Homo sapiens: one gene and its partners. The protein of the gene in region 2 binds, or shares a complex with, the protein of the main gene of each other region. Each region holds a gene or a part of one and is shown on either strand. Other genes may lie near its edges. The genes, in order: EXOSC6, EXOSC7, EXOSC3 and EXOSC5.

The links.
Region 1: EXOSC7 (region 2) and EXOSC6 share a complex: the UniProt entries of both Homo sapiens proteins name them as parts of the RNA exosome core complex.
Region 3: EXOSC7 (region 2) and EXOSC3 share a complex: the UniProt entries of both Homo sapiens proteins name them as parts of the RNA exosome core complex.
Region 4: EXOSC7 (region 2) and EXOSC5 share a complex: the UniProt entries of both Homo sapiens proteins name them as parts of the RNA exosome core complex.

Annotation. Positions count from the first base shown.
Region 1 is NC_000016.10:70,248,022-70,256,801, forward strand, and holds the start of EXOSC6 (exosome complex component MTR3), read right to left. Parts: upstream 3,920-8,780; 5' UTR 3,880-3,919; coding exon 3,061-3,879; 3' UTR 1-3,060. Other genes in the region: AARS1 (alanine--tRNA ligase, cytoplasmic), read right to left, coding at 4,700-4,885, 5,247-5,360, 5,693-5,779, 5,898-6,017, 6,600-6,713, 7,707-7,815. UniProt on the Homo sapiens protein: Non-catalytic component of the RNA exosome complex which has 3'->5' exoribonuclease activity and participates in a multitude of cellular RNA processing and degradation events.
Region 2 is NC_000003.12:44,971,021-44,980,286, reverse strand, and holds the start of EXOSC7 (exosome complex component RRP42), read right to left. Parts: upstream 4,044-9,266; 5' UTR 4,010-4,043; coding exon 3,953-4,009; intron 1-3,952. UniProt on the Homo sapiens protein: Non-catalytic component of the RNA exosome complex which has 3'->5' exoribonuclease activity and participates in a multitude of cellular RNA processing and degradation events.
Region 3 is NC_000009.12:37,777,729-37,782,064, reverse strand, and holds the end of EXOSC3 (exosome complex component RRP40), read left to right. Parts: coding exon 1-79; intron 80-1,184; coding exon 1,185-1,386; 3' UTR 1,387-2,351; downstream 2,352-4,336. UniProt on the Homo sapiens protein: Non-catalytic component of the RNA exosome complex which has 3'->5' exoribonuclease activity and participates in a multitude of cellular RNA processing and degradation events.
Region 4 is NC_000019.10:41,393,572-41,402,649, forward strand, and holds the start of EXOSC5 (exosome complex component RRP46), read right to left. Parts: upstream 3,789-9,078; 5' UTR 3,758-3,788; coding exon 3,610-3,757; intron 1-3,609. Other genes in the region: BCKDHA (2-oxoisovalerate dehydrogenase subunit alpha, mitochondrial isoform 1 precursor), read left to right, coding at 4,257-4,364. UniProt on the Homo sapiens protein: Non-catalytic component of the RNA exosome complex which has 3'->5' exoribonuclease activity and participates in a multitude of cellular RNA processing and degradation events.

The DNA of each region.
Region 1 (8,780 bases), on a different chromosome or scaffold from region 2:
TCCAGCTTGGACAATAGAGCAAGATTTCGTCTCAAAAAAAAAGAGAAAAAGAAAACCATTATTTTGCAATAGCCAATGTTATAATCTACACAGGCACAGACTATCAATGCTAAAAATCATTTAAAAGACATCTTAGGGGTAATTACAGAAATTTGAATATAGAACACATATGTAATAAAATTCATTTTCTTAGGTATGATTACAATATTCTTGTTATACAGAAGAAAAACCTTATTCTTGGGAGATGCAAACTAAAACATTATGGGTTGAACTGTCATCATGTGTATGGTTTTCAGATGCTCAACAAAAGTGTGTGAGAAAATAAAACTGGCAAAATATTAGTAACTGGTAAATCTAGGTGAAGCATATTATTATGAAATTATTATCGTATTTACAGGTATTTATTTTACTGGTGCATCTATCTTTCTATGAATGTGAGAATTTTCACAAGAGCTGGGAAAATGTTCATAATTATGCATGCAGAATAAGCCCAAGCTGGTGGCATTCTGTTCAGTTACAGGTAATTTTCTGAATCTTCCCTCAAATTTTTCTCAAACCTCTATAATCAAGGGGAAAAATGTTTTGTTTTGCTTTGCTTTTTTGAGATAGGGTTGCCTATAATGGAGTGCAGTAGCTTGACCATAGCTCACTGTAGCTTCAACCTCCCAGGCACAAGCGATCCTCCTGCCTCAGCCTTCAAGTAGCTGGGACTACAGGTGCATACCACCATGCCTGACTTATTTTTTTTCCTTTTTTTTTTTTTTTTTTTTTTTTGATAGAAACAGGGTTTCACCTTGTTGCCCAGGCTGGTCTCAAACTCCTGGACTCAGGCGATTCACCAGCCTCAGCCTCCCACAGTGCTGGGGTTACAGGAGTGAGCCACCATGCCCAGTTAAAAATACACTTTTTATTTAAAAAAAAAAGAGAACACTCCTTATATTTCCTTTATATTTTGTAAACTACATACCCAAAATAAAGCATATCAAAAACTGTAAAAAAAAAAAAAAAAAACCCTAATATCAGATATTCCAGACACAACAATACCATAATTTAATCACTTAAAATCTTACTCAAAACTAAATCAATGATCTTTTAGGCCAGGTGTGGTGGCTCATGATAGTAATCACAGTACTTTGGGAGGCCAAGGCAGGAGGATCACTTGAGGTCAGGAGTTCAAGACCAGCATGGCCAACACAATGAAAATCCATCTCTACTAAAAATACAAAAATTAGCCAGGCTAATGGCACACTCCTGTAATACCAGCTACTTAGGAGGCTGAGGCAGGAGAATCGCTTGAACCTGGGAGGCAGAGGTTGCAGTGAGCCGAGATCATGCCACTGCACTCCAGGCTGGACAACAGAGCAAGACTCCGCATCAAAAAAAAAAAAAAGATATTTTAATATATTCAGATACACAAATATGAAATAAAACTAAGTAGAGCTGGTATTCATTTACACATAATTATCTTATACCGTTTGGAATAAGAATTTGGGGCACGTTAGCAAACCAAAAGGCTCAGAAAGACGTCGTGATATTTAGTTCTTGTCTCCCTCTACAAATGTGAAGCACTCTTCTATCCGGCATTCCTAGTGGAGTTCCTATTTTCAAATTTGCAAATCATTCTGGTGCTAAGCAATCTCAAAAAAAACATTTACTAAAAACCAGAGGAAAAAAATCTTATAACTTTGGGAGGCTGAGGCAGATGGATCACTGAGATCAGGAGTTTGAGACCAGCTTGGCCAACATGATGAAACCCCATCTTCTCTAAAAATACAAAAAGTTAGCTGGGTGTGGTGGCAGGTGCCTGTAGTCCCAGCTATTCCAGAGGCTGAGGCAGGAGAATCACTTGAACCTCTGAGGCGGAGGTTGCAGTGAGCTGAGATCGCGCCATTGCACTCCAGCCTGGGCAACAGAGTGAGACTCTGTCTCAAAAAATAAATATAAAAAAATAAAAAGCTGCTATTCTCCATTAATACCTGCAGGCCCGACAAAGGCAGCCTAGGAATTCTAGATGAATGGAATGAATACAACTTGCTGGAAGTTCTTAGGAAACAAAATGACTATTCACAGAACCAAATAAAAGCCTTCCACTAGAAACTAAAAATAATAATAATAATAATAATGGTTTTATATATATGCATACACAAGCAAAGCCAGAAGAGAATAAATAGCAAATGAATGAAAACTAGAAGCAAAAACAAACAGGAAACCATCTCTACATTTTTTTTACTCAATCGACCCTGAATGCTACAGCATTATCCAGGGCCGCAGAAAACACACATAATACTTTATTCCTGATAAACAATTCGATGTCCTTAAGTCCGCCAATATCACCGTACATTCTGTGCAATCAAGAAATTTACTCAGCTGGGCACAGTGGCTCACACCTGTAATTCCAGCACTTTGGGAGGCCAAGGCGGGTGGATCACCTGAGGTCAGGCATTCGAGAACAGCCTGGCCCACATGGCGAAACCCCATCTCTACTAAAAATACAAAAATTAGCCCGGTATGGAGGCATGTGCCTGTAATCCCAGCTACTTGGGAGGCTGAGGCAGGAGAATGGATTGAACCCAGGAGGCAGAGGTTGCAGTGAGCCAAGATTGCACCATTGCACTCCAGCCTGGGCAACAGAACAAGACTCCATCAAAAAAAAAAAAAAAAAAAAAAGAAAGAAAGAAGAAAAGAAAATTAGCCAGGTGTGGTTGCATGCACCTGTAGTCCCAGCACTTTGGGAGGCCAAGGCAGGAGGATCAATCAAGGCTAGGAGTTTGAGACTGCAGAAAGAAACCCTGTCTCTAAAAAAAAGGTCCAGGTAATTTCAGGGTCCAGCTCCACCACAAGCGCAGCTCCAGGGGCTGTTGAGTTTTGCCTTTATCATTCCAAGTAGTCCCTGCTCCAGACCAAGTCCCACCATCTGGCAGTCAGGTCAGTCCAACCACAGTCATATCAGGGCCCTTCCAGGAATTCTCGACGCAAACTGGAGGCCGATGGCGCGGGTCTTTTCGTGGACGGCGGCAGCACGGTCCTCGGCTTGCGTCCGTAGTTGCTCAGGCTTCTGGTTCAGGGCTGGGCGGCGGCGCCCCTGCGGCGGGCGGCCCGCACCAGGCTCTGCTGCAGCACGGGGTAGAGGCGCTGGCAGCCCTCGAGGCCCAGGCGTACGGCCTCCGCCCAGCTCTCTGTCAGGCCGCCCTCGCCGCTGCCCAGCAGCCCGGCCACCTGATTCAGCACAGGCATGAGCGCCACGGTGAGGCCGGCGGCGGCGCGCTCTTCCTCGAGCCGCGTGGGGTCCAGGAGCCAGGTGGGCGCGGGCCCCGGCGCGAGGCTGAGGCCGCAGCCCACCACCAGGTCGTACATCTCCACGCCCGCGTCGGCCAGGGCGAGCGCGGCGGCGGTGAGCGCGGCGGCCAGGGCCGAGCCACCGTCCTCCAGCAGCAGCGCCGACACCTCGAGCTGCGCGCGCGGGTAGCGGCCCAGGCGCACAGCCGGCTCCAGCGCCTCCTGCAGCGCCAGCGCCAGCTCACGCTCCTCGCAGCCGCCCGGGGGAGCGCGGCGCCGGCGGCCCGCGAAGGGTGCGCGGCGGAAGTCGCAGAGCAGGCGACCGCGCAGCGCGGCCGGGGCCTCGCCGCCTGCTCCGGCCGGGCCGCCGCCGCGCTCGCCGCCCTCGGCCTGTCGCGGGCCCGACACGGCACACAGCACCTTGGTGCCTCCCGCCTCCAGGTAGGCCGAGCCCTTGGCCTGGCTCAGCAGCCCGGCGCGCGCGTACACGGGCCGTAGCCGCGTTGGGTCGCGGGTGCCGGGCGCCTCCTCCTCGTCGGCCGCGTACAGCTGCGGCGGCTGCGATTCTTCAGGGCCGCGGATGCGGCGGTGATCCCCAGGCATGGCGGTTCTTGGCGTGCGAACCCCTTCCGCCCAACGCCCTGCCGCATCCACTGGTTCTTCCGTTGTTTAAAGACGCGCGGCTGCGCATGGGCTGTCGAGAGAGCGGCGGGAGGCACTACAGCGCCCCTGGAGGCCCGGAGGGAGAACGGCCCGGTCCCAGTTGTGCAGGGTAGCCGGATCCATCCATCTTGCTGGAAGGGAGGGGGGAGAGCAGCTCCAAGAAAGGCTTCTCTGCTTCCAACTACCTCCACCCCTCATCTACTGAATTATGAACGCCTTGCTCCAAGTCACCCCACCTATTTGGCCTCCACCTCCACAGACGTTTGAGGCAGCCCTAGGGGCTGTTCCCAAAATTTTGGGTTCTGGGGCTGGACTAGGTGAACACCACAGCAGCCAGCAGGAGCCACAGCATTTATTCTACAGACGCCAAAGGCTGTCAAAAGAGCCAGCCCCTATTGGGAAGAGGGATAGAGATCATGCGGCATTAAGTATTGCACGTGGTCCTTTTATTCTCTGCAGCAAAAACGATTCCTACTTGCTGACGCGGAAAGCTCAGGTCTGGAGAGCCGTTATCTATAGATGCGAGCGTGACGATCAACAGCAATGCGGGGTTAGTGGTTCTAGACCGATGGCACTGACGTGGAGGGCTCAGGGCAGAAATTTAAGGGGCACTGAGACATAGGACTGCTCCCAAGTGTGTTCCAGTTACTGCTGGGTTAGGAGGGGCTCTTTAAAGGTCCCAAGATTCAAATGTTCTTGTAGCAGATGAAGAGCTCTTGGCTGGACGGATGGATCCAGTGGGAGCCTCCTCCTTCCCCACTCAGTTCTTTACATCCCCGAGGCGCAGCTGGGCGAAGGAAGTGGCCAGCTGCAGCGCCTCCTGCAGGCAGCCAACGTTCTTGCCTGTGGCCTGTGCAGACACATCCTTGCCACCACCTTTACCGTCCATCAAGCCTGACACCTGCTGCACCCACTCGCTGGCTTTTAAGCCCCGATTGGCTGCATTCTAGAAGACAGGAAGGGAAGGGGGAGTCAGCACAGAAGATGGGATTGAGGGAGGAATGCAGGGAAAGAAAGGATGGAGGAGCCATCACCCACTCCTTGCCCTGGGTGATACTGCTGGAGGCCGAGACAGACTTTACGGCTGGTACAGGGGGCGGCCATGGCCACTGCCAGGACAGGACAGAGTGGCAAAGCCAGGTATCAACCAGATGTCTTCACCAATAAGAAGGCCTGGGTAAGGGGTACTGGCAAAGGTAACCAACCGGTGGGCAGAAAGGCTGTTTCGAATGCAGGCTGTACACACACAGGCCTCAGCCAACAACCTTAAGACCTAACACTTCCCACTGGTGCGAGGTGGTGCTGACCTGGGGAACTTGACACAGGCACGTGATCTTGCCAGCCTCATTGTCCACCGTGAAGAGCATGGCAGAAGTCTGAGGGGAGTGCATCTTGAAGAGCTTCAAGGCTTCATTCAGGGCCTGTGGGGAGGACCTGGCTCAGGCCACGGTGCTGGAGCAGGGACCCTCACTAGTGTGAGCATTTGCAGCCCTCAGAAGGCCTGCCACCCACCCCTACCCCTTCCCAGAGCAGGGGCTGTGCCCAGGGCCTGTGGGGAGGACCCCAGCGCCGGGCCCTGCCCCTACCCTGGCCCAGGTATGCCTCCCACATGCAGGGAGCTGCTGCTCCTCCCAATCTCAATCCCAGACCGTGGGCCCTTAGGCAACCACTTCGCTCAGAGCCACAGAGGCCACATGTCAGCCACCAGAGAGCTGATGAGCCCTAGGGGAGGGGACCCTGGCCCCTGGGTTGCCTTGGCTGAGGCGCCGCTCTCCATCTCCAGGATGACAAGAGGCTGGTTGGGGTTGCTGTCGATGAACTGCTTCGTCTTCTCTAACACCTGCAAGAAAAAAGTCCAGAACAGCAGCTCAGACCAAAAGCCCAGGCCCCGAACCCCTGGCTGTTCTGCCAGCCTTTGCCTAGGAAACACTCTGGCCACTGGTGCTGCCAGGACTCACTCGTTTCTGGACATCGGCTTTGCTGGCTCGGTCCAAGTCATCCATGACCTTCTTTAGGGATTTGAGAGTCTCCCGCAATTCATCCTTCTGCCACTGGGGGATGACTGCAGTGGCCAGGGCCTGGAACCAATAGACGACCATCTCAATCTGGGCCACAACTTGCTGGGATGTCAGGGTCCAGCCCACCCCACCCGAACCCAAGTCCTCCCTGACTAGTGTCCTGGAAAGGAAAGCAAGGAAAGCTTTGAGACCAGTCCCTTTAGGAGCAGCTGTGGCAGGTGAAACAAGCAGGGCTAGAGAGAAAGGAGCAGCAGAAAGCTGGGCTCCCAAATCAGGCCCGGTCCTTACCAGGCTGGGAACAGCCTGTGATAAGCTTCCTGGCAGCTTGAAATGCAAATAAATACCAGGCAGGCTTGGAAGCAGGGGCCAGCCTTAGCCCATTCCCCAAATCCCTCCACCCCAGTGCCCATACATGCTTGGGAAGAGCTCTCCTGCTAGCAGCACTGGGAGCAGCAGGGAATGTCCAGGGTCCAAGGACAGGATCCATGGGGTCCCTGCTACAAGGCTACAGGACAACAGAAGTCAGCCCAAAGGCCCATTCCACCAAGAACCAGGGCCTGACTGACTACAGATGATTTCCTGAAGACGGGGCATGTTTCATGCACCAGGCCCTGAGGACGGAGGGAGGGAAGCCGCCCCTACCTCTCCAAGGTCAGCGATCTCCCTCTGCACATCCTTGTTTGGAGCAGTCTGAGCCTTCACTTTGGCTTCCATGACAGAGAGACATTTCTTCAAGCTCTCTGCTTTCCTGAGGGCCTGGGAGGGGACACCGGGTCAACCCCAAGCAGGAGGTCTGAGTCAGACTCACTATCCTGTGTCTGAGCAGCTGCGGAAGCCCCGGCGGTAGGCCTTGCAGCAACATACCCCAACACCCCAAAAGTGTCTGTGGGGAGTAGGTGCTGGCAGCCCCAGGCCCCAGCAAGGAGCACAGTGCTCACAGGCCCATTGGCAAAGGCTGCACCCAACTCAGACTCAGGGGTGATCAAGCTCGAGAATCAGGAGCCCCTTCCCCCAGGAAGTGGCCACCCCTGGGGCTTTAGCACAAGTCAGACACACCAGTTCCCATGAAAGAGCACCCATCCTCTACTGCACGGCCTCAGACTAAGCACGCCCCTAGGAGTACATGGATCAGCGCTGGGGGCCCCGATGCCACAGCGAATCTATGTCTTACCCTCCTCCACATGGAGACAGGAGGGGGTAGATGGCCAGATTCACATTTTTTTTTTTTTTTTTTTTTTGGAGACGGAGTCTCGCCCCGTCACCCAAGCTGGAACGCAGTGGTGCGATCTCGGCTCACTGCAACCTCTGCCTCCCAGGTTCAAGTGATTCTCCTGCCCCAGCCTCCCAAGTAGCTGGGATTACAGACGCGCGCCACTACACCCAGCTAATTTTTGTATTTTTAGTAGAGACAGGGTTTCAGTATGTTGGTCAGGCTGGTCTCGAACTCTTGACCTAGTGATCCACCCGCCTCGGCCTCCCAAAGTGCTGGGATTACAGGCGTGAGCCACTGCGTCCGGCCTGATTCACATATATTTTAAAAGACTAAACATAGGAAAGCTAGGAGATCTTGTGTGGTGGCAGGTTTCTTCTGCCACTCAGGGGTAGGACACTGGGGCAGGGGGAGTGGCCCAGCCTGTACTTTCACTCTGACTGCAGCAGCCACGCAGAGCAGTGTTTGCTCTATGGATTCGCAGACTGGGCTCCTCTTGCCTTCTTCAGATAAGCCACAAACCAGCCTGACCTGCTCACCTTCTGGGCCTCGGCACCTGTGACAGCCACAATCCTCCGGATACCCTTGGCAATGGCTTCTTCCGTCACGATCACAAAAGCTCCTGCATGACTCGAGTTCCGCAGGTGCCTGAATGGCAGAACACAAAGTCCATAGTGAAAGAGGCCCTGGCAGCCCTTGGCTGGGGGGTCACACTAGCGGACAAGAGAAGCAGGAATGGGTTGACAGTCAGGGAAAGCCTGGGCTTGAGAGTATTCTGACACCAAGCGGGACACCAGCTCGCTGAGCCTGAGTGTTCTCAGTTCTCAAATGGGGATGATTCTCCCCACACAGTTGCTGTGAAAATCAAATGAGGTAAACATGAAAGTGCTTTGTGGTCCCTAATATCCAATACAGTCTTACCCTTAGGCTCTACGTGACAGTTTTGGTCTTGTAGTGGAACTTAAGCTCCATTTTTGTATTCTGCTCACTAGGTGACAATTTTGGAGGATTACTTTTAAAATCTTACCACAACCCCTTAAACAGGCTTTATTTCTCAGTTCAGAGAACCTCAAATGTTCATTAATTCATCCTCATTCTTTGAAGATAGTATAGTTTTTTTTGTTTGTTTGTTTTGAGACAGAGTCCTGTTCTGTTGTTCAGGCTGGAGTGCAATGGTGTGATCTTGGCTCACCACAACCTCTGCCTCCCAGTTTCAAATGATTCTCTTGCCTCAGCCACCCAAGTAGCTTGGATACAGGTGCCCGCCACCACTCCTAATTTTTGTATTTTTAGTACAGACAGGTTTTCACCATGTTGCACAGGCTGGTCTTGAACTCCTGACCTCAAGTGATCTGCCTGCCTCAGCCTCCCTAAGTGCTGGGATTAAAGGCATGAGGCAACATACCCAACCCTTGGTATAAAGTTTTTGAAAGCTGTTTCCTGTAGTCTAAAGGGTATGAGCAAACAGGTAATCAGGCAAAGTGGGACTCGTTTGAAGGCCCAATTCAGCTGGGCAGAAAAGCCTTGAACTCAATCCCCCAGGCCCCTATCCTACTCTCTGCACATCCTACTTGCTCCCTGCCTGCCAGAGGCCTGCAGGAGACCCTGGAGGG
Region 2 (9,266 bases):
TTCTCTGTTCTCCCCTGGGAGAGGGGATCTGTTCACCAGGTTGACTCAAATTGTATCACCTAGACTCCCTTTGCTGGCTTCTGGTTGGGTTTGTCCAGTGGAAGATACCAGATCAGAGGGTGCCCCTCACCCCCAATCTAGTGGCCACATTTCTGATAGTGCCTGCATCTATCGAAGACTATGACTTATGTTGGGCAGCCCTTCCTCCACAGTTCCAGCTATCACTGAAATGTGGTAATACTGTTTCCTCCCCTGGCCCCTTTGGAATAGGGGCAGTAGCCACTCCCAGTAGTTGTCTTGGGGCTCCTCAACATCTCTTATTGGTTCCCTGAAACCCCCCCCATACTGCTCTAGAGTCCCATCATAAAAGTCTCCTGAACTACCTGAAGAGGGTTCCATTTTCTGCCAATAACTAAAATGATCCACCCTCCCTTCTCACAAACTGACTTCTCCCAAGTGTGACACATCCTCTAGTGGCCATGTTTGAGCCTAATTATTCTGTCCATCCTTTCCCTCAACCCCCTAAAAGAACTAGAGTTTCTTTCTCTTGGAAACATGAGTTCAGAACTGAACGAGAAGGAATGGTCTCTTTTACAGAGGAACTGGGAAGGAACCACATTTTTTCTACCACTGGCCCAAGAAATAGAAAACCAATCTGTAGGGAGACAAAAACAAAGCAAAGAGGGGGAAAAAAAAAACCAGCAGAGATTAGGATTCCTGGAGAAACACTTGCAGCCTTGTAATCCATACTGTTTTGCTTGAGCCGATGTGTTGGTTACCATTACTAGCAACTGAATCCTCAACACATCGTGAGGTTAATTTCAACTGCTTCTAACTATCACCAAAACAAGATGAAATATTCCCTGAAATAGTAAAAGAACCAAAGGCTGAAGGGAAAGTGACATCAGAAGCTGAAATGGACGTTACTGGACCAAAGGTGAAAAGTAAAACACAAAATGACTAGGACTATACAAGCAACAGGAGTTCAGGCAGGCACTGCTTAAGGTGCACTGCCGGCACTCTATAACCAACGCAACAAAAGTTTAGGAGATTTCAGAACTGAATCAGTTGAGATTCCATGGTAGGCTCATTCACCTGCATCCTGACCTTTATTTGGATGGTGTAAATTGTGTTTTGCTCCTCTATACATATGGCATATTTTGGGCCAACATTAATAAGCCCTTATGAAGACGTTGATTTGAAGCCCATTACTCTGCATGGCTCTGTGATACACAGAGCTGAGCATTTACCAACAACTGTGCCCAAATATGTCCATGGTACTGGTGAGAGGGAGGTTTAATTTAAAAAATAAAAACACCATCCAACTCATTCCCCCTTTAAAGCTTACATCACCCATTCAATGCTACTAAGAACCTACCAAGTGCTAGACACTGGCTATGCCTTAAGGGTCCCCCATACAGACAAGTCAACAGGCTATTGCCTTCCAAGATCCATGATGAGCGAATGACTGAACCTCTAAGACCTCTAGGATCGTGCTTCTGGCCACCTCTGCAAGCTGATCTTCCACCATTTCCCCCAGCCCACCCCTTGGGCTCCACATGTCCTCCACCTGAGGATTTACAGACTCACCACCCCTTCCTTCTGGAACACTGGTGCCTACTTAATTCTCAGTCATGCTGAGAACTCAGTTCAAATGCTATTTCCTTAGGGAAGCCTCCTCTGACCTCCCAGTCTAGATCGTGTCCGTTTTTTCCTTCATAGCATTCAGTACAATTTTATATATAAACACTCAAGTACATTTATAGTTTCTGCATCTTCCTTCTAGCATGAGAGCTATATAAGGACAGGTTCCTTCCTAGCCCCTGAGTCTAGCTCAGTTCTGTGTTGAATGAATGAATACTGAGTCCTGAAGATACAGAGGAGGAATCCTTGACATGGATTTAGGGGAGCAATTCCACCTCCTTAGGGAAGCCTTCAGAGCATTACAAGTCCCTGGAATTCTTTTTATTTATTAAAAAAAAATTATTTCTTTAGAGATGGGCTCTCACTGTGTTGCCCAAGCTGGTCTCAAACTCCTAGGCTCAAGCAATCCTCCCATCTCAGCCTTTCAAAGTGCTGGGATTACAGGCGTGAGCCACAATGCCCGGCCCCTGGTATACTTTAACTTCAACCTCCACTAACTATACCACTTCCTTGGCATAGATCTTACATTACCTTTGTTTTTATTTTATTCACTTTTACTCTCTGTTTGTCTCCCTCCTATCTTTCATTTATTTCACAACCATGTTTTGGCATCCCTGCTGTTTCCCACATAACATGCCAGGAGCTAGATATATGTTGGTAAATAAAATTAACTAATGACCATGGTGGGACTCTGCTGCTGGATAGCTAATGAACTGCCGTGGGAATTAAGGGTGCTGGGGAGAAAGCTCTAACCTTGAGGTTACAGATATATCCATGCCTCAGTGCCACTTTCAGGGATGAAATGTTGAGAGAAAATAGGACACATGACAGAGTCACTACATCATGGTAAGCTCCGGTAACAAAGAAGACCAAAGGTTTTTAAATTTAGAGGAAAACGGTTATCCGTAATGTGTCCCTAAAAAAATACTTTGAGGATAAAAATCACCTGAACAAAGTGTATACAAAAATATAGCAGGGAAAGACATATCTAACTGCTTTTGGGCATTTTTATGCCCCCTCACACACAAATAACATACATGTTACCCTGTAATACACACATATGTCCCACTGTTGTTAATCCTGAATTATAACTAAAATATGCAACTGTGAGTTCTGACTTTATTATCCAGGCATAATATGCTAAATATTGGCATTTCTTCATATATAAAGGGCCCAGAAGATAACGGCAGGTCACGATTTTTAAATGGACATGTCCTTAACTCACGTTGTGGGACTTCAATGATAGCTGGCCGCTTCAATCCGATGGCTACATCACGGGACCACTGACTTTGCAGTTGGTACTGACAGAGGAAAGGCATGAGGAAAAGAGGTAGGAGCTGTCGCCAGAACTCTGCCAAGGATGGGATGAAGAACTCTGATAGGAGGACCACACCGTAGGTTAACAAGTGGAGACACAGCCGGAGGAGGATACAGGGTAGCTCGTTACCAGGTCCAACATTTTTCAACCCTCGTTCTGGAGTGGTCATAACCAGGGATTTAATATAGAACACAGAGGACATTAGGTTATAGCTGCCTAGGGATCTTAGTTCTTCATTGGCAAAATGGAAACAGCACTTAGGCTATCGGCTGCCTAGCCGCTTTTTTTTTGAGACTCGGCTCACTGCAACCTCCGCCTCCCGGGTTCAAGCGATTCTCCTGCCTCAGTCTCCCGAGTAGCTGGGACTACAGGCGTGCGCCACCACGCCCAGCTAAATTTTTTTGTATTTTTAGCAGAGACGGGGTTTCACCATGTTGGTCAGGACGGTCTCTTGACCTCGTGATCCGCCCGCCTCGGCCTCCCAAAGTGCTGGGATTACAGGCGTCCTAGCCGCTTTTTAAAAACCCTTCCCCCTTTATTTGTACGGCAATTTGTATTTTCAAAGTGCGTTCACCTCGCATGCGCCCTCCTAACCACGAGGTGAGGAAAAGCAGGCCAGAAGCCCACCTCCAAACTCCCATTTCCTCGAAGAGAAAACTGAGGCTCGGACAAGATCTGTGCGCGAACGCCGAATGGATGGCCCTGGGGCCGATGCTCTCTCACTAAGAAAAGGCCTCCGAGACTGCCCAAGCTTCCTGCCCGGGTTCGGAATCTTATAGACCCGCAAAACTGCAAATGCGCTAACAGTCCTAAAAACGTCCACGTTGCCAGCTCTGAATTGCAAACGCCGGCAGCAGAACCGTTTAATCACAAGGTAAACGGAGAGTCGCCGCAGCTCGGCTGCCTCCTCACTGGCAAACCCAGGGCAGGCCGCGACCCGCAGGGCCAGGCTGAACCCGGCGGCCGACCCAACGCCGCTGCTGTAGCTACCTGGACGCCATGCACGATGTACACCTTCTCCGCCTCGCTCAGCGTCACGGACGCCATGCTGCCGAGCTGCCCCACGAGCCGCACGTCATCTGCGCGCGTCCCCTCCTCTGGACCGCGCCCCCACGTCCCACCCCCCCCCGCCCCGCGTCAGCGCGTCATCAACCTGCGCGGCGGCCGCTCCTGCAGCCGCGGCCGCCGCCACTGCCGGGAGAGCTCGATGGGCTTCTCCTGCGCGCCGCCCGGTGTCTGGCCGAGTCCAGAGAGCCGCGGCGCCTCGTTCCGAGGAGCCATCGCCGAAGCCCGAGGCCGGGTCCCGGGTTGGGGACTGCAGGGGAAGGCAGCGGCGGCGGCGGCGGGAGCCCCACCGGGGTCTGGGACTGGGGAACTGCCTCCGGCTTCACGGTCAGTTGGGAAGGGAAACTGGGGTAGGGGTGAAGAAGCTGGGGTGAGGCGAGCCTCACGGGCCGGGGGACTCCCAGTGGGAGAGGCGTGCGGCGTAGTTGCTCAGAGCTGGAGTTGACTTAGGAGCGTGTGTGTGTGTGTGTGTGTGTGTGTGTGTGTGAGAGAGAGAGAGAGAGAGAGAGAGACCCCGACTAAGGAGGGGCGGACGTCGTGATTGGCCCGGGGGTGCTGTTTCCCTGCTCTTCTCCCCTCCATTTCTCTAGTCCCTAGGATGGCTGGAGAGGCGATGCAGCCCTCCCTAGGTAGTTCTTGGTGGGAAGGGTCCGGGAATGGGGGACACTAGTCCTAAGGCGTCCCCACCCCTCCACCCAGGAATATCTCTCGCTGGCTCGCTCACTCTCTGTGACCGAACGCTGTCCCATTACCTTGCTGGGACCTCTTGCCTCGGGTGCTTACCAGAGCGTTGTCCCACAGACGGGGGAGGAGGCGCTTGGTAACCGGCACTGGCGAGGTGCGCAGTGCCCGGACGTCCCCAACGCTTCCTAGCGGGAACTGGAAACCCCGGCTTGATGGAAGTGATTACTGGGAGCTGTGAGCAGTTGCCCGAAAAAAAGCCAACCCCAACCCCTTGCGATGGCCGAGTGGGAGTATGGGCATTGGATACCCGGAGAGGATATCTGCAAGGTGAAGCTGGGGTCACCAAAGGAACTCATTAAGGCGGGGCTGACAAAGTATGGTGCAAGTTTTAAAGGAGCCGTGTGGATAAATGGGAGAAAGTTAACCCAAATTAGTTGAAGCAAGGAGGGCAGGTTAAAGCAATTCTGATGACTTTCCTGATGTTCCATTTTTGAGGACCCTCAGCCAAAAAAAAAAAAAAATGGTATTTATCAGATAGTGGGTTCAAATACAGTTTCAGATAACTATTGGGAGCCTACTATAGATAGGCTTTGTGCTACCTTTAGAACACAAGACAAGTAAAACATACTATGCCCAGAGAAGTTCCCTGGGCAGATGAAGGCTCCAGGGCCAACATAACCACAGATCATGGTGGTTAGAGCTATGATGGTCGCATCAGTGGGCACAGTGGGATTGGGAGGTCGTCTGATAAGGTTATAGAGAGGAAGTGCTTGCTCACATTCTTAAGCATTAAACTGCTGAGCTCCAAAATTGATGATCAGTTCTTCGTAGACTGGACATTAGATGTTTCTTATGTCTCTACGTAATTCTCCACAGGGGCACCTAAAAGGAAGACAGCTTGCAGGGTTGGACTTTGCCTTCCAGGGAAACTGAAAGAGGTGAAGCCGGAAGGATTTCCTCCCTAATGAAGGCACAGGTGCCCCACCTGTTGTGGCACTTAGATGTGTTTGTGTGTGGTTGGACGGCTGGGTTTTATGTGAGGAGCTCTGTTGTGATAAGATAACATGAGATTGCTGATGTTATAAATGATATTTTCTAGATGTGCTAGAGATTGCTCAGAAAGGAGAGACCCTGGAAGTGGGATTTTAGAAGCTAGGATATCTGAGGAGACTGAGGATTTAAGAGGTGACAGCAAATGGACAGATCAGAAAGACACAGGAAGAAAAGCCTGAGTTCAGATACCATGGAGTTATCTTTATATAAAGATTTTCCAATGTCTTAAAATATAGAACATGTATTTGAACTGTCCCCCCCTCACAATTGACGGGAATTCCATACTGGACAAGGGTCTGCAGTATTTGCTAAATAATGTTATGAACGATGTCTTATATATTAGGCTAAGTAGGTAAGAGAGATGTAAACAGTAGAATGTTCCTTTTTAAATTGTCTACTAAAACAATGACAGTCTTCACTAATCATTCGGCTTAAATGCTGCCAGAACATTTTTATCACCTTTGCTGTAATAGTGCATTGGACGTCTTTAAAATCCATAAATTCTGAGTTCTTTTTTAGTGTATTGAAGTAATTCAAAGAACATATGATAACCAAAAAAATCAAGAAGTCAAGGATGGCACAGTATTAAACCGTCTTGTTTTTCCATCACTATTAGATTCATTTATTGAATGAATAAATGAATTGGGGCATACTATTCTGTAGGTTTGTGTATTCTAAAACCTTATACTCTAATTTTCAACACTAATTTACATAGTGCTTATTGTATGCCAAGCATTGTTCTAAGCACTTTATAAAGATTAACCAGGCTAGGTGCGGTGGCTGACATCTGTAATCCCAGCACTTTGGGAGGCCGAGGCCGGTGGATCACCTGAGGTTGGGAGTTTGAGACCAGCCTGACCAACATGGAGAAACCCCATCTTTACTAAAAATACAAAATCAGCCGGGCATGGTGGCGCATGCCTGCAATCCCAGCTACTCGGGAGGCTGAGGCAGGAGAATCGCTTGAACCCAGGAGGCGGAGGTTTTAGTGAGCTGAGATCACGCCATTGCACTCCAGCCTGGGCAACAAGAGCGAAACTCCATCTCAAAAAAAAATAAAAATAAAAAATAACTGATTCAATCCTTGCAACAGCCCTGTGATGCAAGTATTCTTATCCCTATTTTACAGATTGGGAAATGAGGCACAGAGAGGTTAAATGCCTTAACCAGGGTCACAGGTTACATCATTGGTAAATGGCAGAACCAGGACTTGAGACCAGGCAGTCTAGCTCTCCTGCCCATACTCCTAACCATCACCTTACACAGCCTCCCCCCAGGTTTTATTACATTCACCAGATTATTTGGTGAAGGAAATCCCAATTTTGTTATGGCGTTGGTAACTGTCCTATGAACTATATAGTTAATCTTAATTCCAAAAGCAAGAAGTCTGTTCAAGCATAAACTCATATCCCTTGAATCATTTTTCTAGAGGAACATGGAATGTGGTGCTGATGGGATGTTGCTGTGTCTGTTGCAACCCAATATTTTAAACAAGGTAAAAGGTTATATATGAGCAGAATAAGAGCTTAACTCCAAGTAGCTAAGGAGAGAGCCCTCAATGGCAAAGATGGCTGATAGATCTGGTACTAGGGTTGAGTAGCATGCATGGAGACCCAGATTCCAACCGTATGCCATACTCAGATATCTAGAAACTCCAGACAGTGTGTTTGCATGCCTGTGAGTCCCTGGTGTTCTTATGGGCATAAAGAGATAAACTCAAAACACAACACCTGCCTAAAAGTAGTTTAGAATTTATTATAGTGGGGGAGCCCAGGACCTCGAACTACTGCATGAACAAGACAATAAAATAAAGTGCTCAATTGAGACGTGGCAATTAGAAGAGAGGCCAGCCTATAATAAGGTGCTAATTGTGCAGGCCAGGTATCAAATACAAAAGGTAAAGAGCTGCTGCTAGCCACAAGCCGGCAACAATAACATGACAGAGATGGAGTAACTCTGTCCCACCCATCCTTGGTTAATTAAACCAATAAAAGCCAGTTACAAAAGAGCTTCAGGGCAATGCTGAGTCTGTGGTGCTGATGTTGCAGAGAGCTTTTTTGGAGACAGAGTCTTGCTCTGTTGTCTAGGCTGGAGTGCGGTGGCACAATCTCTGCTCACCGCAACCTCCGCCTCCTGGGTTCAAGCAATTCTTGTGCCTCAGCCTCCCGAGTAGCTGGGATTACAAGTGTGTGCCACCACTCCCGGCTAATTTTTGTATTTTTGGTAGAGACTGGGTTTGGCCATGTTGGTCAGGCTGGTCTCGAACTCCTGGCCTCAAGAGATCTGCCTGCCTTGGCCTCCCAAAGTGCTGTGATTATGGGCATGAGCCACCATGCCCAGCCATAGAGAGCTCTTAAAAGCCCAGCAGGAAACCTTCTGTTCCCAGTCCTAAGCAGACATGGCCATGTTTTAGGCCTTTTCCTTTGCATTTTCACCATTAGCCCAGCACCCTTGAAATGTACAAAGTCAGTTACCGTTTTGCCTGTAGATCTGTTTCCTTTAAACACTTTGCATTTGTCCCGCCTGTACCTTGTCTTAAAAGAATGAGGTGGGAGGATCCCTTAAGCCCCGGAGTTTGAGTCCAGCCTGGGCAACATAGACCCCATCGCTAAAAAATAATAAAATAAGTAATAAAATAATGATAGAAATGAAGAATATCTGTAAAGAATACTGTCATAGTCTGGCCAGCAGGTCTTCATCTGTCTTCTAGACATTGTAACTTGAGATTACAGTGATAGAAAAATTGCTAGTAATACATGGGTAAAGCTTACTCTTAATTAGAGGAAAAGTTATACAGTCTTCATGTGTGTTTCATTTTGGGAGAGTGACAGCATGTTTCCTATGTCTCATTAGGGCATATTTGAGAAAAGGGGGTAACAGATCCTGCTTACCAAATGTAGAAATATTTAAACACACACACCCTGATAGCCATGGAAAGTAACAAAGTCTCAAGTAGAAGTGGAGGGGTGATGTCTCAGTGTTGACCTGTTGGGGAAAAAATGAGGCTCATGCCATGCTGCCTTTAGTTCCTTCCTGTTTTGCATTTTAAAAAATCATTTGCTTTCCTCCTCGGAAGCAGATTTCCAGAGACAAATGGCCAGTTCATTCATGGCTGTCAACTGTGAAGGTGAGAAGGCTCCAGGTGCATGTCCCACTTAATTCAGTCATACATCCTAATACATTTGGAATGCATGGGAAATGTCATCATTTCATAGTCTCCTCCAAACCATAGACTTCGTAGTATGTATTGACTTGGCACTTGAACTCTTGGCAAGATATGAATATGTATTTCCTATTCAAGGTCAGTGGAGATGCAATGCCTTTGAGTGAGATCACTTTCTTACCTTAGCAAGGTAAGCCTAATGAGACAAGTACAGTTCTGGCCACAGTCCTGTTGCAGTAAAGTCTTCAGTATGTGAAGTGTATGTTTCTAAACCAAGAAATAGTAGCAGAGAATCTAGAAAGACAGGTTGTTTAGGAAGATAACAATCTATGGTAGAAA
Region 3 (4,336 bases), on a different chromosome or scaffold from region 2:
GCTGTGGACGAGCCAATGGAATGGGTGTCATTGGACAGGATGGTCTGCTTTTTAAAGTGACTCTGGGCTTAATTAGAAAGTAAGTCCTGATGTCTGCTGGCTTGACTGCTTTTTATAATTATACATTCTTGGAAAGTTGGTTAATCTTCAGGATTCAGATTCTTTGTAACGTTTGAATTTCTCCTCAGAGTTAGAAATCAGTATCCATTTTAACACATTTGGAAACTCATGAATTTAATCCTATCTTCTTGGAAACATATCAAATTCAGATGTGTTTGGCTGTGTAGTTTCTGGTGGGCTGATACTTCATGCCTTAAGCTCTTACTCTGTATTCATATCTTCCTTCCCAGGCCTGTTGCTTATTTGACTTAGCCCAAATGTGAAAACTGGCCTTTCCCCTGTTCTGAGTCACTTGAATACAGATGCAGTCTGCAGTTGTATAAAATTATCAATTTTTTCTAATTATGGGGGTCACACGCAGCTTAGATTGTGATGTTCAAGGTTATGTAGACATTCACAGAAGGCTTCTGACACTTGGTCATACTGAGGCATACTGAGGTTCATGCTGAGGCAGATTCTCTTTTTGGTGTTTAGAACTTTACCCACCCAAAGCTGTGCCATATTCAGGGGCTTTACTCCTAGAGCCAGTGAAGTTGAGAGCTATCTTGTATGCCTCTCCTTACTACATATCCTAAAGATCTGGAGAATTAAGTTTGGACATCAGAGAAGCATGTTTTTAACCAAGAAGCATGTTATTAACCAAGCACCACCCTTATGGTTTGAAAGAGCCAATGTTCCTCTCCAAGTACTGAATTTAACACAAGAGAATAATATGGCCAGGAAAATAAGTTTAAAGTGTCTTAACACTGTAGATAAAAAAAGTTATGATTCCCAGTCTAGAATTAAAGTGCTCTGACCATCTAGGGGAATGACTTTTACAAAGTTGGTAACCTAGGGAGTTTGATTTCTTTGTAAGGCATAGCCCACCTCTGTGATTTCTAGTATACCTTTGAACAGTGTAAAGTTCCTTCTTGGAAGAAAGGAGGCAGCAAATGTCATCACGTGCCTTGTTCTTGTTGAACAGCTATGGAGAACTGCTCAGAAAAGGAATCACATTCTAAAGGAGACTCCGGACACACCTTTGCCACTTCATTAAATTTCATTTTCTTTTCTCTTCCCACCAGGCTATTAGCTCCAGATTGTGAAATCATACAGGAAGTGGGAAAACTCTATCCACTGGAGATAGTATTTGGAATGAATGGAAGAATATGGGTTAAGGCAAAAACCATCCAGCAGACTTTAATTTTGGCAAACATTTTAGAAGCTTGTGAACACATGACGTCAGATCAAAGAAAACAGATCTTCTCCAGATTGGCAGAAAGTTGATATAGGTGGACTTTTTTACAGGTCAGTTGAGGCAAAAAACTATGGGTTTTTTCAGGTGAACCTCCCCCATTTAAATACTCAGAAGATAAGGTGTGAATGTATGTATTATTAGAGTCCGAAAGTATTTTTATAAGTTACTGGTTTTCACCCACGCTTTTGTGGGAGAGAAAATCATTGCAAAATCATTTTTTTTGTTCGGTACAATAAAGTTTACTAAAAAACAGTATTAGGGTTTATTTGGAGTTAACTCCCTTAGTAATTGCTACAGCTTCCATAATTAACTGGAGGTCAGCAGTAAAATAATTTTGTGATTATAACAGTAAGCCAGGTTCACCAGAGGAAATGTGGAATACCTAAGTATAAAGCAGCAAAGAAATGTCACCTGTAGTCCCATTATTCAGCGGGTGAGTATATAACAACGAAATACTTTTTCATTTACCAAGTATTGTGTTTTGCATGGATTAACTCCTTTATTCTAACTGCAGAAGACACTTATCCTCATAATTGAAACTGAGGCACAGAATTTAACTTGGCCTACATTCTCTATATTCATCAAATTGAAATTATAGTTATTATAGCTTATATGCCACTTTGTAATATACTTTTGTCTACTTCAAACAGCATGATACATTTCACAACTTTAGTCACATATTTCATGTTACAGGATATTTTTGAGTTTTATCATTATATAAATAACACTATGAGGATTTCTGAATCCAAATCTGGCCAAGTCTTATTTTGCTAAAATCATTTCCTAGGAGCTAAGCATAGAAAACTCTTCTATGCTATTTAGTATATTAACCAAAACCTTTAGAGGTAAAGAGACTGCCAGGTGATCCACATCAGTGATTCTTGGTTTCTAGACCTCTGAGAATATGTGAGATACAGATCCCCTGAAGCCTATCCATAGAAAGTCCTTTTTGGATCAAAGAGATTATAGAACTCTATTTGTTGATAAAGACCAAGGAGCTTCGTGTGTTTCTAATGTTTTCTAAGGACTGGATGGTTTTTAGTTCAATAGCTTTTAGGGGTACAAGTGGTTTTGGATTACACGGATGAATTGTATAGTGGTGAAGTCTGAGATTTTGGTGTACCAGTCACCTGAGTACTATATATTGTACCCAGTATGTAGTTTATCCTTCCCCCTTCCCTGTTCCGGGTCTCCAGTATCTGTTATACCACTCTGTGTGCTTACCTGTAGCTTAGCTCCCACTTAAAGTGGGAACATTTGGTATTTGGTTTTCCATTCCTGAGTTACTTCACTAAGAATAATAGCTTCCAATACTATCCAAGTTGCTGCAAAAGACATTTTTTATGGCTAATATTCCATGGGATATATATACCACACTTTATCCATTCATTGGTTGATGGGTACTTAGGTTGGTCCCATATCTTTTATTATGAACTGTCTAGCCAGTTTTTAAATAGAAAAGTACTGATTAGGTGAACAGTTCCTTAGGAATTAAATTGTGAAGGGGAGGGGACACAGCAGAGAAGTAATCTGTTGGTTCTTTTGAGATATTGAATACATGTCCCAAATTTGCTAGCTGCTTAACTAGCAAGTTAACCCAAACTGTCAGAGTAACTGAAGCAAATATGTCCAACTGGGACATAAGGAACATGAGATTTGTGTAATAAGTAGGTTATCTAACGTGTTCATGTGTCTAACACTTTCTAGCTATTTTCAAGACAGACTTAATCAATACTGTGTTTGCTTTCCAATTTAATCTGTTACAAATACATATGAAGAATCTAGTTGGTACAGGCTCAGGGAGGATAGAAAGATAGGTACACAGATTTGTCCTGTTAGGATCCTACCATTAGGAAGGATTAGGAAGAGAAGCCCTCCATGCCCATACTCTGCAAGGGAGAACAAGGTAAGAGCCACAGGAGGGAACAAAATGCTATGGGGACTCAGTAGGGATAGGTCAGAACAGGCTGGATCCTGCAAAGCTTATTACTGAGCTGGGCAACAACGAGCATGATCAGACAAGGCTGGAGAAAGTCATACAATTTTATGATGCCAGTTTAGTGAATATTAAACTCTTGATGTAACCATTTAAACAATTTCAAGAGGTCTCTCACAAATAGATGTACAAAAGTTGAATTAGCACGTCCAAAGCCATGTGGTTTTGAGGCTAATTCCTTGTTACATAATTTTTTTTTTTTTTCCCCTCGAGACAAGAGTCTGGCTCTGTCGCCCAGGCTGGATCTTGGCTCACTACAACCTCCGCCGCCCGGGTTCAGGCGATTCTCCTGCCTCAGCCTCCTGAGTAGCTGAGACTACAGGCACGCACCACCATGCCCAGCTAATTTTTGTATTTTTAGTAGAGACGAGGTTTCACCATATTAGCCAGGCTGGTCTGGAACTCCTGACCTTGTAATCCACTCACCTCAGCCTCCCAAAGTGCTGGGATTACAGGCGTGAGCCACTGCACCCACCACATTAACTTTTTATTACTTAACATATCTGAGCACTTCCTGTGAGCCAGGCACTATGGGAGATTAAAAAGCATTAAATGTGGTCCCTGACATTATTGTGAAGCTCTGAGAAGATGTCATGCAAAGACACTTGCCTATGTGCCACTGCCACCCTCTGCCCTGCTCTTTGGGTCAAGGTACCTCCAAGCGCCTCACTCCTGCAGCTGCATTTTTTTTTATTTATTTTTTTTTTGAGATGGAGTCTTGCTCTGTCACCCAGGCTGGAGTGCACTGGTGAAATCTCGGCTCACTGCAACCTTCGCCTCCCGAGTTCAAGTGATTCTCCTGCCTCAGCCTCCCAAGTAGCTGGGACTACAGGTATGCGCCACCACACCTGGCTAATTTTTGTATTTTCAGTAGAGAAGGGTTTCACCATGTTGGCCAGGCTGGTCGTGAACTCCTGACCTCAGGTGATCTGCCCACTTCGGTCTACCAAAGTGTTGGCATTACGGCGTGAGCACCTGGCCAC
Region 4 (9,078 bases), on a different chromosome or scaffold from region 2:
TTTAATGAGATGGAGTCTTGCTCTGTCGCCCAGGCTGGAGTGCAGTGGCGTAATCTCGGCTCACCGCAACCTCTGCCTCCCGGGTTCAAGCAGTTCTCCTGCCTCAGCCTACTGAGTAGCTGGGATTACAGGCGCGCGCCACCACACCTGGCTAATTTTTTTATTTTTAGTAGAGACTGGGTTTCACCATGTTGGTCAGGCTGGTCTCGAACTTCCTGACCTCATGATCTGCCCGCCTCCCAAAGCGCTGGGATTACAGGCGTGAGCCACTGTGCCCGGCTGGTATTAGTAACTTTTAACAGGAAGTTCTTCCTGAAAGCTAACCATCCTCCCTCTTACTGCAGCTGCTCTCAACTTCTCTTTCCAAAGCTTCCCCAGCCCAGCTCTTCCCTTAGGCACTGGCCCCCAAATTTTGCATCAGTCTGGACACCTGAGAAAGGGATAATATCTGGAATGAATCCTGATTCCTTATTTCCCCAGAAGCTATGAACGGGGTACAGGAGGTAAAACCTAAGAAATAAACAGCCTGGCTTCTAGTACTGTCTGCTGTAATCCCAGCACTTTGGGAGGCTGAGGTGGGTGGATCACCTGAGGTCAGGAGTTTGAGACCATCCTAGTCAACATGGTGAAACCCTATCTCTACTAAAGATACAAAAATTAGCTGGGCATAGTGGTGGGTGCCTGTAATCTCAGCTACTTGGGAGGCCGACGCAGGAGAATTGCTGGAACCGGGGAGGCGGAGGTTGCAGTGAGCCGAGATCACACCATTGCACTCCAGCCTGGACAATAACAGCAAGGCTTAGTCTCAATAAAAAAAAAAAAATACATTTTAGGCCAGGCATGGTGGCTCACACCTGTAATCCCAGCACTATGGAGGCCCAGGTGGGAGGACTGCTTGAGGCCAGGAGTTTGAGACCAGCCTGAGCAGCATAGGAAGACTCCTGTCTCTATTTTCTTTTTTGGGACAGAGTTTCCCTCTGTCACCCAGGAGGCTGGAGTGCAGTGGCGCAATCTCAGTTCACTGCAACCTCCGCCTCCCAGGCTCAAGTGATTCTTGTACCTCAACCTCCAGAGTAGCTGAGATTACAGGTGCGTGCTACCACATCCGACTAATTTTTGTATTTTTAGTAGAGATGGGTTTTCACCATGTTGGCCAATCTGGTCTCAGAACTCCTGACCTCAACCAAGCGAGGTGGCTCACGCCTGTAATCCCAGCACTGTGGGAGGCTGAGGCAGGTGGATCACAGGGTCAGGAGTTCAAGATCAGCCTGGCCAACATGGTGAAACCCCGTCTCTACTAAAAACCACAAAAATTAGCCGGGCGCGGTGGCACGCACCTGTGGTCCCAGCTACTCAGGAGGCTGAGGCAGAAGAATTGCTTGAACCCGGGAGGTGGAGGGTGCAGTGAGCCACGATCACTTCACTGCACTCCAGCCTGGGCGACAGGGCGAGACTCCATCTCAAAAAAAAAAAAAGAAAAAAAAAAAAAGAACTCCTGACCTCAGAGGCCTCCCAAAGTGCTGGGATTACCGCTGTGAGCAACTGCACCCGGCCTCTTCTTAATTCTTACGTTCGAAGAAACTTTAGGTATCTCAATTCAGCATAAGCGCTAAGCCTGAGGGAGGGCCTGGGAAGGTCCTTGGTTAAGGCCGTATTTCCTGGGAAGCCCAATTTGCCCTTACACGGAAGGTATGCTTAGTTCCAGGAGAAACTGCCCTGAGGACTGGAGAAGTTACCAAAACAGAACTTGCCTCTGGCTCCAGATGAACTGCCTGTGTTTTGCCCGAGCACAAGAGTCTCTCCCCTCTCACCTTCTTGAAGACGTGGCTCCAGCAATTCTCTCCCCTGTTGACCCCACAACAATCTACAACTCCTGCCCCACTTATCTGATCCTCTTACAGCAGAACTCCTGAACAGCTGCCTCTTCTTCCTTTTCTGTGACCCCACCACTCCATTGCGGCAGCTCAACATCGTCACCACTGACCTCCAAATGATCAACCCTCCCATGACCCGGCTGTCAGTAAGGCTGAAACAGCTGGTCAGCCCTCACATCTCAGACATGCTCTTTTCTTGGCCCCAGGTCACCACCATCTCCTGGTTTCCCCCTAACTCTCTGGGCGTTCCTTCTGAGTCTCCTTTGCTAGCTTGTCACATGTCTCTGACTGCTCAAGTTGGAAGGCCTAGGGCTTGGTCCTGGGACCTCTTCTCTTTTCCATCTACACTCACTTCGTTCAGGCAATAGCCTGAAATACCATCTATATAGCCAGAGAGTTCCAAATTGCCTATGTCCAGCTTGGGTCTCTCTTCTGATTTCCAGACTTGTACAGATCTGGGCAGAAACCTTAGTTATGCCTGAATCTTTTTCCTCGCACTCAAACCAAACTATACGTAAGTTTTGTCCGTATTACTTTCAAACTACATCCAGAATCTCATCACCTCCACTACTCCTGCTCTGGCTGGAGCCACCATCACCTCCCTGTTTTCCCCCATACTCCCCACAATCAACACAGCAGCCAAATTTTGTTAAAATGTATTGGGGCTGGGCGTGGTGGCTCATACCTGTATGAGCACTTTGGGAGGAGGATTGCTTGAGCCCAGGAGTTCAAGACCAACCTGGGTGACATCGTGAGACGCTGTCTCAATTTTTTTTTTTTTTGAGACAGAGTCTTGCTTTGTCGCTCACGCTGGAGTACAATGGCACGATCTCGGCCCACTGCAACTTCTGCCTCCCAGGTTCAAGTGATTGTCCTGCCTCAGCCTCCCGAGTAGCTGGGATTACAGGCGCCCGCCACCATGCCTGGCTAGTTTTTGTATTTTTAGTAGAGACAGGGTTTCGCCATGTTGGCCAGGCTGGTCTCGAACTCCTGACCTCAGGTGAGCCACAGGTCTTGGCCTCCCAAAGTGTGGGGATTACAGGCGTGAGCCACCGCCCCCGGCCTCCCGTCTCAAACGTTAAAGAGAAATATTCTTGGAGTTAATCTACTTCTGAGAGTTATTTAGCTAGGAAAAGGGGATATTTGCTCTATAGGTAAGACTTGCCCTAATCTTTTTTTTTTTTTTTTTTTTGACTTGCCCTAATCTTAGGGATATTTACTTGTGTGGAGAGATGCAGTGAGGTAGCGGTGGGGATGTATTTCTCAACCCAGCGCAATGACATTATCTTCAATTTGAGGAGTATTTACGTGGGTGAAAGATCCGCCACAGTCCACAGTATGCAAATAGACAGGTTTGCTTCAGTCCGGGATGCAAGGACCTAGAGGGTGTGTGTGTGGGGGGTGGGGGTGGGAGGGTGGAGGAGGAATCGAGTTAAGGGGGATATTTACCCTGGCGAGGTGATTTTCCCTATTCTGAAATATCAATTCTTGGGCGGACAGTCTGCCCCTCCTCTCATTCTCAGAGATAGTTACAAAGATGGAACTATCTTCTCCTTTCTAGTCGTGAGGGAGAGATGTGTGTATCCCTGCGTATTTAGTAGTATTCAATCGGACAAGAAATCATGCATCAACGCAGGAGTGACATTTACCAGCTGGTATCGTGAGGAGGTGGGCACTCGGTTGCACAGTACACGGTAGTCCCTCTCCAAAAGAAAGACCTGGGTGAAGTTCTTACCTTGCAGGAAGGAAGCAGAGCCATCTGGCCGCGACAGCAGGTTCTGTTCGCAGGCAAAGTGCCGGAGGCTGCAGCCAGGACCCCGAGGGCTGGACCCTGTTCCATTTTCAGCACGGATTTTGGCGTCAGTATGCGTCTCCTCCTCCATCGCGCCGAGCCCACGTGCGGCTGCAGTTGTCACTTCCGCCTGGCAGCGCGCGCCGCAAACAGGCTGCGTAACCAGTGCGCACGCGCCGGGCTGGGCCATCCTCCTGGGCGTCCGCACGTGGCTTAGCGTTTACCAACAATCTGGCTCCGCCCAGTCCCACCTCCTAACTCTGGCAACGCCATTGGACATTTGGGAACAGAAGGCAGGCCTTGGCATTGATCCGCTTTACTCTGGGCCCCCGGGCCCTAAATCCCTGAGGCCCTGGTCAGGTTGCCCTCTTCTTTGCCTGTTACAGGAGTAACTACAATGAGGCGATTGGAGAAAATTTTGGGTAGATAGATTTTTTTTTCTCCAAATCTCTGTGCATTCTATCTACCACAGAACGGGAAGAAGATGGTTTTCTTGTCAGATGGTGCTGGAGTTTGCGTCAGGCACATAAAGAGGCAGCCCCGAATCTAGCCTACGTGAGTGCCGGACCGCTGAGTGGTTGTTAGCCAAGATGGCGGTAGCGATCGCTGCAGCGAGGGTCTGGCGGCTAAACCGTGGTTTGAGCCAGGCTGCCCTCCTGCTGCTGCGGCAGCCTGGGGCTCGGGGACTGGCTAGATCTGTGAGTACCTGGGCCCCAGGCGGTTTTCCCAAAGGGGATTAGGGATGTAAAGGCTATCTTCAGAGTGTGGGGTCCCTGAAGGATATGAAGGAAGGGCTGTCACAAAAGGGAAAAAGAGTGGGAGACTCCTTGGAGAAGACACCGAAGGGAAGATCTGCCACTTCCTTAGGAGACGAAAAGAACTTCCACTTCTTTAGGAGAGGAAAAAACCCGTTTGCAACTTCTTTGTGGGCCCTGAGGGAGACGACTTGAAGAGAGAGATGGGGGTTCCTTATTAGCTGCCACTGGTATTCAGGGGAGGCTCCTTGGAGGAACAGGGGAAGACCGCAAGACCTTCTCCCTCAGGGTTTGGAGAATGAAACTGACTTTGTAAGGGAGGGACTTTCTTCTGGGCAAAGATCCCTCTTCAAGAAGAAGAAAGAAGAGAACAGGTCCCTGTCACAGGCTGCATAGGGCCTTGTATTTCTTTGCTCCTTTGCCACAATTCTGATTTTAAAATGAATTGTGTAAAAAATTTGTTTGATTCCTGTGTCTCTTGATCGAATATCAAGACAGAGAATTCGTGTGTTCTGGACACTGTACAGAGGAGACGATTAATATTTGTTGAATTAATGAGGGGAAAAAAGGAGGGAGAGAGGTACAGACAGGGCACTTTGCCCACATTTCTTAGAAACACTTGAGAAGGCTTTGTTTCTTGTCAAAAGGGTCACAATCCCTTCAGGTGGATGCTGCTAAGGGCAAGATTACACTGCAAAAAACCTAGGTGGAAGCCTATCTTTAGACGGGGAGAGGCAATGGGTTGCAGAAGAGCTTTGAACTACAGTTGACAGATAGGAGAGTAGTGGTTACATGGGTGGATGCATGTCCTTGCTCTGCCGCTTTCCACTTGTGTAGCCTTGGCCAACGGACTGCACTTCTCTGGATCTATGGAGCTAATTTTCCTCTCTAAAATATTAACAGTGGCCACCTCATAGGGCTGTGAAAAATCAATATGTAAAATGCTAAGGACTGGACCTGGCACATCCTAAGGGCAATAGGAATGTTGATAGTGAGGGTGGAGGGAAGGGACAGAAACTAACCTTGGAGATGGGGAGAAGAAAGGGGTGACCTTGGGAAGGCCTGGATTGGTGAGGCCCTGGGGAAAAAAATCTGAAAAGATATTGTGAGGTTGAGTCTGATCCTCTGATCCCCAATCCATAAGGAGGGGAAGATGGAATCTGTAGAAAGAAGCTCTGGGTAGGGGAACAAACGGGAGGAGGGTGAAGAAGATGGGCCAGGAGTAGGACGTAGTAGGTATCTAGGAACGGAGTCACTTGAAACAGGTAAATACAGAAGGGCTGCAGGAGCAAGGTGTGGGTAGGGCAGTCTCTTGCCTTTGGGCTGGAGACCTTTTCACTTTTTTTTTTTTTTTTTTTTTTGAGCAGTTCATATCCTCCACAGCTGATCTCAGTCCCAGGGGCCCATTGGCTGGGCAAGTGGGGCAGGAGGTGGGCAGGACTGGGGCAGGCTAGGGAAAGGTCATTTATGGCTGATTAAATCTTTCTCTCCTGTCTCAATCTCTTGATTACCTTTCCTCTTGCTTCCCCTACTTCATTTTTGGTGGGGAGTGGGGAGGGAAGAAGTCCCTACTTTTTATTTATATATATTTAAATTTGTATTATCTTAAGAGTTATTGTTTTTTCCCCTTTATTTCTCCCACCTGTTCTTTCTCTCTTCTTCTTTCTTTCCTCTCCTTCTCCTCTCCTCTCCTCCCCTCTCCTTTTTCTTTTCTTTTCTTTTTCCCTTTCCTTTCCTTTCCTTTTCTCTTCTCTTTTCTCTCTCTCTTTCTTTCTGTACCTCTCTTTCCTTTTTCTTTTTTTTTCTTTTTTGAGACAGAGTTTCACTCTCTCGCCTAGGCTGGAGTGCAGCAGCATGATCTTGACTTACTGCAATCTCTGCCTGCCGAGTTCAAGCAATTCTCCTGCCTCAGCCTCCCTAGTAGCTGGGATTACAGGCATGCACTATCACGCCTGGCTAATTTTTGTATTTTTGGTAGGGACGAGGTTTCACCATGTTGTCCAGGCTGGTCTCGAACTTCTGGCCTCAAGTTCCGCCTGTCTTGGCCTCCAAAAGCATGAGCCACTGCGCCTAGCCTTTTCTTTTTTTGAGACAAGGTCTCACTCTGTCACCCAGGCTGGAGTGAGTGCAGTGGTGTGATCATGGCTCACTGCAGCCTCAACCTCCTGGGCTCAAGCAATCCCCCCACCTCCACCTCCTAAGTAGCTGGGACCACAGGCACGTGCTACTACGCCTGGCTAATTTTTAATTTTTTTTTTTTTTTTTGAGACGGAGTCTTGCTCTGTCACCCAAGCTGGAGTGCAGTGGCACGATCTCGGCTCACTGCAACCTCCACTTCCCAGGTTCAAGTGATTCTCCTGCCTCAGCCTCCCAAATAGCTGGGACTACTGGCGTGCGCCACCATACCCAGTTAATTTTTGTATTTTTAGTAGAGATGGGGTTTCACCATGTTGACCAGGCTGGTCTTGAACTCCTGATCTAAGGTGATCTGCCCGCCTCGGCCTCCCAAAGTGCTGGGATTACAGGCATAAGCCACTGTGCCTGGCTGCGCCTGGCTAATTTTTAAATCTTTGTAGAGATGGGGTTTTGCCATGTTTTCCAGGCTGGTCTTGAACTCCTGGACTCAAGCGATCTTCCTGCCTCAGCCTCCCAAAGTGCAGGATGACAAGCGTGAGCCACCTTGCCTGGCCATATTATTAAATTATCATGAGTTTAAGTTTAAGTAGCCACAAGTGGGCTGGGTGCGGTGGCTCATGCCTGTAATCCCAGCATTTTGAGAGGCCAAGGTGGGCGGGTTGCCTGAGGCCAGGAGTTCAAGACCAGCCTGGCCAACATGGTGAAACCCCATCTCTACTAAAAATACAAAAAAATTAGCTGGGCGTAATGGCGTGTGCCTGTAGTCCCAGCTACTTGGGAGGCTGAGGCAGAAGAATCGCTTGAACCTGGGAGGCGGAGATTGCAGTGAGCCGAGATCGCACCACTATACCCCAGCCTAGGTGACAGAGCAGCCCTCTGTCTCAAAATAAGATAGCCACAAGTGGTTGGTGGCTGCCACATTAGATGGTGCAGGGTTTTTGTTTTGTTTTGTTTTTTGTTTTTTCGAGGTGGAGTTTTGCTCTCATTGCCTAGGCTGGAGTGCAATGGCATGATCTTGGCTCACCACAACCTCCTCTTCCTGGGTTCAAGCGATTCTCCTGCCTCAGCCTCCCGAGTAGCTGGGATTACAGGCATGCACCACCATGCCTGGCTAATTTTGTATTTTTAGTAGAGACAGGGTTTCTCCATGTTGATCAGGCTGGTCTTGAACTCCCGACCTCAGGCGACCCACCCACCTCGGCCTCCCAGAGTGCTGGGATTACAGGTGTGAGCCACCATGCCTGGCTAAGATGATGCAGTTTTATCCAGGTGGAGATGAAGAAATAGTCAGGGAAAGGTTGAGAGGCTGCATATTGTAGACAGATTGGATTACTGGGTTCACTGGGGAAGATTGGATTAGAAGGAGGAGTGGGGCTGCTTTACTTGTCCCCGACTTCTTGCCCCTGCTCTGCCCACTCCTTCATTGAATACCCTGCTGCCCTGCAGATGTGTTTGCCTGATTTTCACCTCCCTTCCTGTCTCTGTTATCATAGCAGACGTTTTAGTGCTCAGGGAAAGGAGGAGGAAGGAAACTCAGATTGTCAAGGAATTGTGAGTCAGTTTCTCAGCCACTACCCCAGGCCTGGGCTTGGCTAAGTCATTTCACCTCTCTGACCCTAGCTAGTGGGGTGAATAGAGTCCCTACCCTGTTGGAAGTCAGGAAGCCCCTGGAGCTCGCTCTGTGCTAATTATCGGTGACTATTTCTGTGACCCAGCTCTTCAGGGGCAGCCTGTCTGGGGGTTCCAGTGCCCTGTGCAGTATCTCCAAGTGGTAGGTACTCAGTGTATGTATTAGTCCGTTTTCAGGCTGCTAATAAAAACACACCCAAGACTGGGTAATTTATAAAGAAAAAGAGGCTTAATGGACTCACAGTTCCACATGGCTGGGGAAGCCTCACAAACATGGCGGAAGGCAAATGAGGAGCAAAGTCACATCTTACATGGTGGCAGGCAGACAGAGTGCTTGCAGGGGAACTCCCCTTTATAAAACCATCAGATCTCGTGAGACTTATTCAGTATAATGAGAACAGCACGTGAAAGATCCACCCCCATAATTCAATTACCTCCCACTGGCTCCTTCCCACAACATGTGGGAATTATGGGAGCTATAATTCAAGATGAGATTTGAGTGGGGACAGAGACAAACCATGTCAGTGTGTATTGTGGGATGAATGGAGATGGTCATTACAGTCTTCTAAGTGTATGGGTCCATCTCTTACTTGCTAGTGTGTTAAGAAACCTGGCCTCCTTTTTCACATCTTGAGGCACTGAATGGTTTACAAATCCAACTCTAATTTTTTATTATATTTAATACACCAATAGTGCAAGGCCTTTATTGGTAGTACTCTCCTATTACAGATGGAGAGACTGAGGCTCAGAGAGGTGAGGTCTGAACTTGGAGCTCTGGACTCCAAAACCCAGTTTCTTTTCATGGTACCAGGCTGCCAGGAGGAGAAAGGATGGAGCTTAGATTCAAGTCTTGCAACATTCTTCTTAGTCCAGTATTGGCTTATTTTGTTTT